Regions from separate parts of the Homo sapiens genome. Here region 2 is linked to region 1. The links come from fine-mapping of genetic effects on gene expression. A gene starts in region 1. The other region holds a variant in brackets. All regions are shown on one strand. Distances are from middle to middle.

The links.
Region 2: its variant is fine-mapped to the expression of NECAB2 in whole blood (INTERVAL, PIP above 0.99).

The regions. Positions count from the first base shown.
Region 1 is chr16:83,965,675-83,971,036 of GRCh38, forward strand. NECAB2 (N-terminal EF-hand calcium binding protein 2) reads left to right here and starts at 2,570. Exons shown (of 13, transcript NM_019065.3): 1 at 2,570-3,175. The coding sequence starts at 2,975. OSGIN1 (oxidative stress induced growth inhibitor 1) reads left to right here. Exons shown (of 6, transcript NM_182981.3): 6 at 1-658. The coding sequence ends at 333. RefSeq lists a silencer at 2,446-2,635.
Region 2 is chr16:83,990,734-83,996,095 of GRCh38, forward strand. It overlaps NECAB2 (N-terminal EF-hand calcium binding protein 2), which reads left to right. Exons shown (of 13, transcript NM_019065.3): 7 at 3,569-3,687; 8 at 3,876-3,955. Among named protein-coding and RNA genes, the nearest start is that of NECAB2, 25 kb to the left of the region's middle. RefSeq lists a silencer at 5,253-5,312. The variant C/T (reference allele first, on the strand shown) is at 2,843.

The DNA.
Region 1 (5,362 bases):
TGCTTCAAGGAAGACTGCCAGGCCGTGTTCCAGGACCTCGAGGGTGTCGAGAAGGTGTTTGGGGTCTCCCTGGTGCTGGTCCTCATCGGCTCCCACCCCGACCTCTCCTTCCTGCCTGGGGCAGGGGCTGACTTTGCAGTGGATCCTGACCAGCCGCTGAGCGCCAAGAGGAACCCCATTGACGTGGACCCCTTCACCTACCAGAGCACCCGCCAGGAGGGCCTGTACGCCATGGGGCCGCTGGCCGGGGACAACTTCGTGAGGTTTGTGCAGGGGGGCGCCTTGGCTGTGGCCAGCTCCCTGCTAAGGAAGGAGACCAGGAAGCCACCCTAACACTCGGCCAGACCCGCTGGCTCCCAGGCCCTGAGAGGACAGAGATGACCACATCCCTGCTGGATGCAGGACCCGTCCAAAGATGCCCCGGGGAGGGGTGTCAGCCCACGTTGCTGGCCTTTGGGGTCAAGAGGAGTAGGGATCCCAGGCTGCCCTGGACTTAGACCAGTGTCTGAGGTGGTAACAGCGGCCGCAGGCCAGGGTTGGCCTAGACCTGGGATTTGTGGGGAAAGCTGCTGGTGTGACCAGCTGAGCACCCAGCCAGGAGACCTGCAGCCCTGCGCCTTCCAGAAGCAGGTCCCAAATAAAGCCAGTGCCCACCTGCTCTCATGCGTCTGAGGACTCTGTGCTCGGAGGGAGCTGCGTTCCCGGAACCCTGCACTGGGCTGGGGGGAAGGGAGGAAAGGGGATTGTGGGAGGAGTCCTGGGGCATGTGGTCCTGGATGAGGTCCATGGCTGGGGCCTTGGGGTACAAAGGATGGTGCCCCAAGTGTGGGGGCAGTTGAGCGGGCAGCTGTACTAGAGTCTGGGGGTGGGAGTGGCGGGTGTGTGCAGGCAGTGATGTCCAGGAGGGCGCTGCAGCCCCGCCCCCTCCGCAGCCTGTCCCAGGCCTCCCTCCTCTCTGTTCTGCCATGCGGCCTCCTTTCAGTCCCTCCTGCTGGCCAGGTCTCTGCCTGCCCCAAGGCCTTTGCACAGAGAGTCCCCAGCCCAGGACAGTTTCCCGCCTTTCTTTAACTCCTTTTCCTTGGGATGTCTCAGCATAAGAATCACTTCCTCTAGGAAGCCTCTTCTGACACAAACCCCTCCACTGCCGTCACAGCAAATACTCCTTTCATGGTCTAAGGTGCTACCTTTTCATAGCAGTGCAGTTTTTTTTTCTTTTTTTTGAGACAGAGTCTCATTTTGTCACCCAGGCTGGAGTGCTGTGGCGCTTGGTTCACTACAACCTCTGCTTCTGGGTTGAAATGATTCTCCTGTCTCAGCCTCCCAAGTAGCTGGGATTACAGGTGACTGCCACCTCGCCCAGCTAGTTATTGTATTTTTAATAGAGACGGGGTTTCACCATGTTGGCCAGGCTGGTCTTGAACTCCTGACCTCAAGTGATCCGCCCTCTTTGGCTCCCCAAAGTGTTGGTATCACAGGCATGAGCCACCACACCCTTCCAGCAGTTCAGTTTTAATTGTTCATTTGTTTGTGGAATCATTTCAGTGTTTGGCTCTGCCCACTTGGATGTAAGCTCCAGGAGCTCTGGGAGACCAAGTACACCATCTGTTTTGCCCATTGCTGGAACTCCGTGGTTGGGCACCTGCCTGGCACCTAGTGGGTTCTCCTTAATTCATCTTTTAAATGGATGGGTGGATGGATGGATGGGAGGATGGGTGGGTGGGTGGACAGATGGATAGATGAGAGGATGGTTGGATGGATGGGAGGATGGTGGGTGGGTGGATGGATGGATGGATGGATGGGAGGGAGGGGGGTGGGTGGGTGGGTGGATGGATGGGAGGGAGGATGGATGGATGGATGGGAGGGAGGGAGGATAGATGGATGGATGGAAGGATGGTGGGTGGATGGATGGGAGGGTGTGTAGGTGGGTGGATGGATGGATGGATGAGAGGGTAGGGGGGTGGATAGATGGATAGATGGGAGGGTGGGTGGGTGGATGGACAGACAGATGGGCGGGCGGGCAGATGGATGGACGGATGGATGGATGGATGGATGGATGGATGGATGGATGGATGGGAGGGTGGATGGATGGATGGATGGAGGGTGGATGGATGGATGCCAGGGAGGGAGGATGAGTGGGTGGGTGAATGGATGGATGGATGGGAGGATGCTGGGTGGGTGGATGGATGGATGGATGAATGGTTGGGAGGGTGGGTGGATGGATGGACGGACAGTCGGCCGGCCGGATGGATGGATGGGAGGATGGGTGGATGGATGTATAGATGGATTGATGGACGGGTAGGCAGGTGGATGGATGGATGGATGGATGGACGGACAGGTGGGTGGGTGGATAGATGGATGGGTGGATGGAGTATGAAGGAAAGATGTTCTGGGGTGAAGACTGGTTCTGGGCGTTTTGTAACCAAGGGGGCGGCCTGAGGGGGCGTGCACGCCCGCGGGAGTTAAGGATGGGCGCCCGCGGGCGTGACGGGGCCGCGGGGCGTGGGCGCCGCTCCCCGGGGCTGGAGCCGGCAGAGGGCGCTCCGGGCTCGCTGGACACCCGCGCTTCGGCCTCTGCTGCGCGCCGCGAGTGGGAGGGGGGACTTTAGAAGCGGGGAGAGCAGGAGACTTTTGGGGAGCAGGCCCCAGGGGCGCCGCCCCGCCCCCAGGCCCCACATACCCCTCCCCTCCGGGTAGCCCCCTCTGTGGCTGCGCCCGCGCCCCTCGCCCCGGCGGGCAGTCCTCAGGCCCCGCGCCCGGCCGGCGGGGGTGGGGGCGGCGGGGAGCGGGCACGTGGCTCGGGGTCCGGCCGGCCCGCCCCCCGGCGCCGGCCAGTCCCCGCGGTGTCCGCGGCCGCGGGGGCAGCGGGAGAGAGGGCGGGGCGGCGCGGGCAGCGCGGGGAGGGGGTCGCGCGGGGGCGGGCCGCAGCTGGGCGGGGGTCGGCGGGCTTCCGGGCGGCGGCGGCGGGCGCGGCGCGATGTGCGAGCGGGCGGCGCGCCTGTGCAGGGCCGGCGCGCACAGGCTGCTCCGGGAGCCGCCGCAGCAGGGCCGGGCGCTGGGCGGGCTGCTGCGCTGGGTGGGCGCCAGGATGGGCGAGCCCCGGGAGTCGCTGGCCCCCGCCGCCCCCGCGGACCCCGGCCCAGCCTCGCCGCGCGGGGGCACCGCCGTCATCCTGGACGTGAGTACGCGCCGGCCGGGACCCCCGCCGTGGCCTCCGCTGGGACCCGGAGCCCCCTCCGCCCCTCGGGCGGACCCCGACGCCGCGACCCGCGAGGCCCTCCCTACCCGGGCAGGAGACCCCCGGCCCCTCCGCGTGCCGGAGCGGGAGCCCCCAGCCCCGCCACGTCCAGGCCGGTCTCCAGCCCAGTCCTCTCCCTGGACCGGGAGACCCCCCTCCTCCGCCCCTCCACCGGCGCTTCTCGGAGTCCCTGCCTGCCCACAGTGGGGAGCCGTGAGCCCCCGGACCCGGCCACTGTCCCCCTAGTTTTGTCCAAGCCAAACCCCCACCCTTTACCCCGCGGGACCGGAGCCCCTCGCCGCGTCCAGCCGCCTCCTCCTCTCCATCCCGGATCCTGTCCGGAGCGATACTTTTCTGAGACCCCTAACAACCCCTACCTCTAGCCCACCTCTCTTCGCCCTAGACCCTGAGCCCCCGTTCATCTCACGCTCAAAGACCCTTTGCCCCAGCTACTGCCACTTTAAAAGTGAAGCCCCCTCCCCACCTTCTGTCTTCTCGTCTCCTTTCCATTGAGCCAGAGCCATCGCCCATCAGCCCTGAGCTGGTACCCCTCTGGTCTTCCCCACCCCGCCCCCTTCCATTCCAAGTCCTCTGTTCCCTTCCCCACACCCCTCTACCCTACAGAGAGCTGGGTCCTCTTCATGGACCAGACTCACCCCTCACCCCTCCTAACTCCCCTGGGACCCAAATCACCCATCTCTGGGAAGCCCACCTCACCCTCCCACCCGCCCCACCCGGGAGGGAGGAATCTTCAGGGGGCGGCTCGGAGGAGGAGGACTTCTCCCAGCAGAGAGTGCTAGGAGGAGGTGGAGGAGGCTTCTGGGGATGTTGACTGCGTGTTTCAGCGAGGGTCCTGCTGGGGTGGGGCTGGGGGCTGCCTCTGCCTGTGTGGTGGATTTCTGGGAGAGTGGTGGGTGTGTGTGAATGTGCACACGCGTGTATCGCGGATCCCTGTGAGTCGGGGGATTCCCTCCCTTCCTCTCTCCTCTTCCCTGCTCCTGGAACCCTTGGCCGGGGTCTGGGCTGGGAGGGCCGGCCAGAGCAGGGGGAGCTCTAGAGTGCCACACTCGCAGGCACACATTCACACACTCACGCACTCGCTTACGCACGCACACACAGCCAGAGACACACCCATGCAGCCAAACCATCCCCTCCTCAGGACCCCCGCAGAGCTCCCACTGAAAGTCCTGGGCAGAGCCCTGCAGCCCCAAGCTGCCCTGCATGGAAGCCCTGCCCAGTCAGGGTGGGGGCTCTGAGGTTCCATCTCCTCACCTGCCAAAAGGAGTGATGAGCGGGGGGTGGGGCGGGAGGTGCTCATGCAGACTCCTGGAGCTGGCTGACATTACCAGGTGTCAGCCCTGCCATGTCACTCATGTGTTCAGCATTCCTGCCCAGAGCCGGCACCTACCTGGTGCCTGGCCTCAAGGGGGATCTGGGACACCCAGATAGGGACCCCAGTTTTGAGGAGCCTTGCCCAGTCAGGAACGGGGCTGCGGGGTGCCCAGGCTGGATCTTTGAGGAGGGCTTGGGGATCTGAGGTTCAGCCAGGAGGAGGGGTGATGTTTGAGAGGCCCTCCCATAGCTGTGCTTCAGTCTCACCGCCCAGGTGCCTAGAAATGACCAAGGGTGCCCCCTTTCTCGTTGCCTGGAGGGATGGGGGGCGAGGGCATCTGTCCTTTACCCCAAGGCGAGGACAGAGGGTGGAAGGGTCAGAGTGAGTATTACCTCCTCCTCCTCCATGGCTGACCTGGCCCCAGCAGCCCTCCCTGGTGTCGGGAAATGTGTACATGTTGCTGCCTCTCCCTGGGTCTCAGTACCCTCCTTGTTAAAACAAGCCACTGAGATTGGGGTGGGGGCCACCGCAGAAGCTGGGATCCTTCTCAGGCTTTAAAGTGCTGGTGGGCAGGGCGCCGTGGCTCACGCCTGTAATCCCAGCACTTTGGGAGGCCGAGGCGGGTGGATCACCTGAGGTCAGGGGTTCGAGACCAGCTTGACCAACAAGGTGAAACCTCGTCTCTACTAAAAAATACAAAAATTAGCCAGTTGTGATGGCGGGCGTCTGTAGTCCCAGCTACTCGGAAGGCTGATACAGGAGAATTGCTTGAACCCGGGAGGCAGAAGTTGCAG
Region 2 (5,362 bases), 25 kb after region 1:
ACCTTGGGCAAGTTGCCACAGCTCTTTGTGCCTTTGGTGCTCCATTATGTAATATAGGCACAATTATATACCTAAAATCTCAGCCATTGCAAGGATTGAATGAGATAGTAAATGCTCAGGAGAATGCCTGGTGTACATATTTATTAATACAGTGAAGACACCATTTCCCAGACTCTAATTTGTTTTGCTGCATCCACATGCTAATTGTTTATGCAGAACTATTCTGTTGTTTGGCCCACGTTTTATTTATTTATTTATTTTTTTGTTTTAGACAAAAAGTGTCGCTCTGTCGCCCAGGAGTGCAGTGGCGTGATTTTGGCTCACTACAACCTCTCCCTCCCTGGGTTCAAGCAATTCTCATGCCTCAGCCTCCTGAGTGGCTGGGACTGCAGGTGTGTAACACCATGCCTGGCTGATTTTTGTATTTTTAGTAGAGACGGGGTTTTGTCATGTTGGCCAGGCTGGTCTTGAACTCCTGGCCTCACGTGATCCACCTGCCTTAGCCTCCCAAAGTGCTGGGATGAAAGGTGTGAGCCACCACAGCTAGCCTATTTTCTCTTTCTCTCTCTCTCTTTCTTTCTCTCTTTCTCTCATTCGTTCTTTTTTCTTTTTCTATTTCCTTTTCTTTTCTTTTCTTTTTTTTTTTTTTTTGAGATCGAGTCTTGCTCTGTCACCCAGGCTGGAGTGCAGTGGCGAGATCTCAGCTCACTGCAACGTCCGCCTCCCAGGTTCAAGCGATTCTCCTGCCTCAGCCTCCCTAGTAGCTGGGATTACAGATGCCCACCAGCACACCCAGCTAATTTTTGTATTTTTAGTAGAGATGGGGTTTCACCATGTTGGCCAGGCTGGTCTTTAGGGTGATCCACCCGCCTCAGCCTCCAGGTGCTGGGATTGCAGGCTTGAGCCATGGAGCCCGGCCTTATTTTATTTATTGACACAGAATCTTGCTGTGTCCCCCAGGCTGGAGTACAGTGGCACCATTGTGGCTCACTGCAATCTCCAACTCAGGTTCAAGCAATTCTCCCACCTCAGCCTCCCAAGGAGCTGGGACTACAGGCATGTAGTCCCACCCACACCCAGCTATTTTTTTTTTTTTTTTTTTTGTAGAGACGGGGTCTCGCCATGTTGGCCAGGCTGTTCTCAAACTCCTGGTCTCAGCAATCCTGCTGTCTCAGTCTTCCAAAGGGCTGGGATTACAGGCAGGAGCCACCACACCCCAGCCCACTTTTGAAAATTAGAAAGCAGTTTAGGAAATGGCATATGGTTATAACTGCACTCTCGGCATCACATGCCGTAAGTGAAGTAACTGTAAAAATAAGCACCTGTCATTGTTTACGATCCAGCTTGAATCCTGAGGCTTGCCACCTCTCTGTTAAAAAGAGAGACTGGGGGGAAATCAGAGAGGTGTTGAAGACAGTAGTAGCAAGTTGAGAGTTTCTCAGGAGGACTGAAAGAGACGTGAAAGAGGAGTGTTTCTTTCTGGTCTTGTGTTAGGCCTTGTTTGTGTGCTTGGAACCATGGGAATGCATCTGGGGTCCCATCCTAGGTGGTGGCTGCTGTGTTAGGGGTGTGACCTGGTATTTAGAGAGGAGCGACATTCTCGTGGCTCAGCAGTCCCATCTCCCGGGGAACACGAGCACCCGTCCCCCCGCCCACCTCCATTTGCTGTTTCAAATTGAGAAAAACCCTTCTTTGCTCAGTTCTTCCCAGAACAGCTGATGTGCTTGACACAGAAGAAAAAGAGAAAATGCAAACAGATGAGGGAAACAGCCAGGTGTCGGCACCCAAGCTCGATTGAGCCCTTAATTTTCCAGGCAGAGAGGTACCTCAGGACCAGGATATTGGTTTGCTGGGGGACTGGGGTTTGATCGTGTGTTTCTTCGTAGTTGAAGAGCTGGTCCTGATCAGACATGATTGTGAAGGTAACTCTGAGACACTGTTTCCCAAATGAGTTTGATCTGAGCATTTGCGCTGAATCACCTGGGAAAATTAAAATACACATTCCTGGGCTCCTGGCCATACTCACTGGCTAGAATCCCTGGACTGGAGCCCAGAACTCTGCACATGTGGTCAGTCTTGTGATTCTTGGGTGCCCCAGAATTAGCAGCCATCGCTGTGAAAAAAGCTGACACTTAGATTTCCTGGGTTTTCCTGTTACTATCTTGATGAAAAACTTGCTGTTTTTCTCCTGCCGCAGAACAGATAGTATGGCTGCGCAGTTTTCAGGGCAGACTTCCCACACTGGGTCAGCTCCATCACGCGTCAGCAGTTACACCCACCTGCCCCCATGGTGGGGACCTTACTTGGGGATGTTGTCAGACGGGGCAGCTTGTCGTGATACCTCTGTTCCACACATGCCCCTCCCTCGAACTTCCCCAAATCTCAGCTAGTTTGGCTCTAGGCTGTGGGTCCCTGAGGACTATCCTGTTTCCCAGCCCCAGGACAGTCTCCCAGGATGTCACCTCTAGCACAGGCTACTGGCTCAGACCCCACCACCCGGGAGCCCTGAGCAACCCGTCATGGTCTGAGGGATACATTTAATTTCCTGCTGGTTTATAGAGAAGCCATGATTGACACCATAAAGACTCTGCCAGCCTCTCCCCTCCCAAGGCGGGAGTCGAGTTTGCTCCCTCCGCAAGGGGGAGAGCCTGGCGGAGTGTTCAAGGTTCACAAGAGACAAATTCCAGAATGCACCAAGACCGCGATGCACAGAGACCAAGCGGGTGTTGGGGCCGTGCACAGGGCACTCTGTGTGTCTTCTGGGGGAGTGTCTGTGTTTCTGTATGTCTGCCAGGAGCTTTTCAGCATCCTTTTGCATGGGAGGATTTGGTCATTCATTGAG[C/T]ATTTTTGAGTCCCTACTATGTGCTGGACACAGTGCAAGGTGAGCTGTGTGTGTGTGTGTGTGTGTGTGTGTGTGTGTGTGTGTGTGTGTGTGTCTGCCTCTGCCTGTGGCTAGCTGTGCCTGTCAGGGCACGCAGGGGTGTGTATGCACATGAGTATGCACAGGAGAGGGGTGTCCAGGGCCGGGAGATGGGGCCAGGCCCAGGTCAGGATCACAGTTTCTGTCCTGTTACATCCCGACTGTCAGTGTCTCTTTAGGTCTCGCTTTTATGTGTATGTGTTGGAGGGGGGTCTTGAAACCAGGTCCCCCACCCCAGAGGGCACCAAACATTAAATGGGCCTATCATGAGGGAGGGAGGGGGACTTGGTCACTCCACAGCTTGGGCTCTACACGTGCCCGAAAGCTTCGAGCTGTTAGAGTGGGGGTGGGTCCCTGGCTCAGCCTCACTCTGGAACTGAATCTCTTGGGGAAAAGGCCTAGGCCGTGGGGTCCTAGAATGGAGCTGAATTCGAATCCCAGCTCTGCCCAGCTAGCTGCGTGGCCCTGGCTGAGTCACCTGCTTTAAGAACCTCATTTCCTCCTCTGTCAAAACAAAGGCCATGATGCAAGTTCTGTGCATGTGTGAGTCCACTGTCTTGCGTAATAAATGCCTGTGGAAGATGCTGGAAGTGGTAAGGGCCCTGAAGCCACCGCCATGGTCTGTGTGTGTTCCCATCCAAACTGCAGACAGAACCACATCAAACCCAGCCACAGCGCGGCACAGACCTGGTGTGGAAGCCCCACTCCCGCCTCTGCCCCCAACCACAAGCTCATGGCTATGGAACAAGGCAAGACCCTTCCATCTGGTGAGAGAAAGCGGGGGCCCTGGTGGGGGTACCAGCTGGGGGTCCCGAGGAGTTCTGAGAGTCCTCTGACAGGGACTGGGGAGATGAGCAAGTTTGATGCCCCTGGAGGGGCTGGATGTTTCCAGCTTCCCCCCGAAGCCCTCGTCCTGCCCACCACTGAAGTCTGTGTGTCTCTTTCTCTACCGCAGCCACGGAGGATGCAAAGGAAGAGGGTCTGGAAGCCCAGATCAGCCGCTTGGCAGAGCTGATTGGGAGGCTGGAGAGCAAAGTAAGCCCTGGCCTGACCACGGCGTCTACTCCTTCCAACCCCTGAGGGAGTGCAGAGTTAAGCCTGGAGTTCAGGACAAAAGTCTGGGCTGCAGAGGGGCCAGGGAACCATGAAAAAGACATCCCCCAGGTGGGGCGTGGAGCTGCCGAGGACGAAGCTAAGGATCAAACCCCGGGGGATGCTCGTGTTGTTCAGGCCCAAGGAGGGGCGCCTGGGAAGAGAGAGTGTTGGGGGGTCAGGCGGGCCTGCAGGCAGCAGGAGCAGCTCCAGGAGCAGAGGGTGGTCAGCAGGGTCCCGTGTTGCAAGGCCCTAGCTTCAAGGAGACTTTGCTCTGAAGTGGCTGGAGCAGATATTGGCCGAAAGGCAGCACCAGGATGAAAGAGAGACGTGATGATTCGAGAGAGTTTCAAAACAAGGAAGGAAGTGACCAGCAGTAGCAAATGTATTAAGTGTGATATGGGACGTCCACAGGTGATAGAAAATGGCACAGCCCTTACAGAAAACATTTTCAGATAATGTTTCGTGACTCGGGATAGAGTGCTCACAATATGACCATTTGGTGGAAAGAAAAGTTTGTCTTAGGGCCTACAGACAGATGGGCTCAGGTATCAGTCAGAATTCTGGTTGTGCCACTTCATAGCTGTGTGACCCTGGGCCAGGGACTTGTCCTCTCTGAGGCTTAGATTCCTCCTCTGATAATCAAGAAAATAACCTGGAGCATGGGACCCCTCCCTCATAGGGGTGTCGTTAGGATGAACCAAAATGATGTCTCCGGTTTAGCACAGGGCCCGGTGCTGTAGCTTGCATTTAATATTAGCAATGTTAGCAATTATTATGAGGCATTCTGTTACCCAAACCTATCCACATGCACACAGCACACCCGTATACCCACATAAGCCAAGGTAACTGAGCTCTCAGAACCCTGGGATTGAGGTGGTTTTATGTTTCTCCTACTTTTGTGTATTTTTTTTACACCCTTTGTAAAGGGTATTGCTACTTTTAGTTTGGGGGTTCTCAGGCATTCATGGGGGCAGGAACAAGGGGCTCCCCGCATGGAGGGAGACAGAGGCTGACGTGGAATGAAGTCCGAGGGAGGAAGCTCAAACTTCCCCTCCTGCAGGGATGAGGCTGAGGTGGAGTTACCCCCTTCCTGAAGCCAGCTGCGGGAGCGGCTCGGAGGGGACCCCGTGGCCCGGTTGTCATAACAACTCAGCGGGCGCCTCGGGAGGGAGACTCTGAAGCTTATTTTTAGAGCACCGTCGCCCTAACAACCAGGCTGGCTGGTAACCACGGAGTACCTGGGCGTCCTGGAGACGGGGTGGGACCAGGTCCTCCTCCCCAGCCTCTAACTGGCCCGGGCGGTCAGCAGGGGCCAATCCGGGCCTGGCTTCAGGCCCCGCCCTTCAC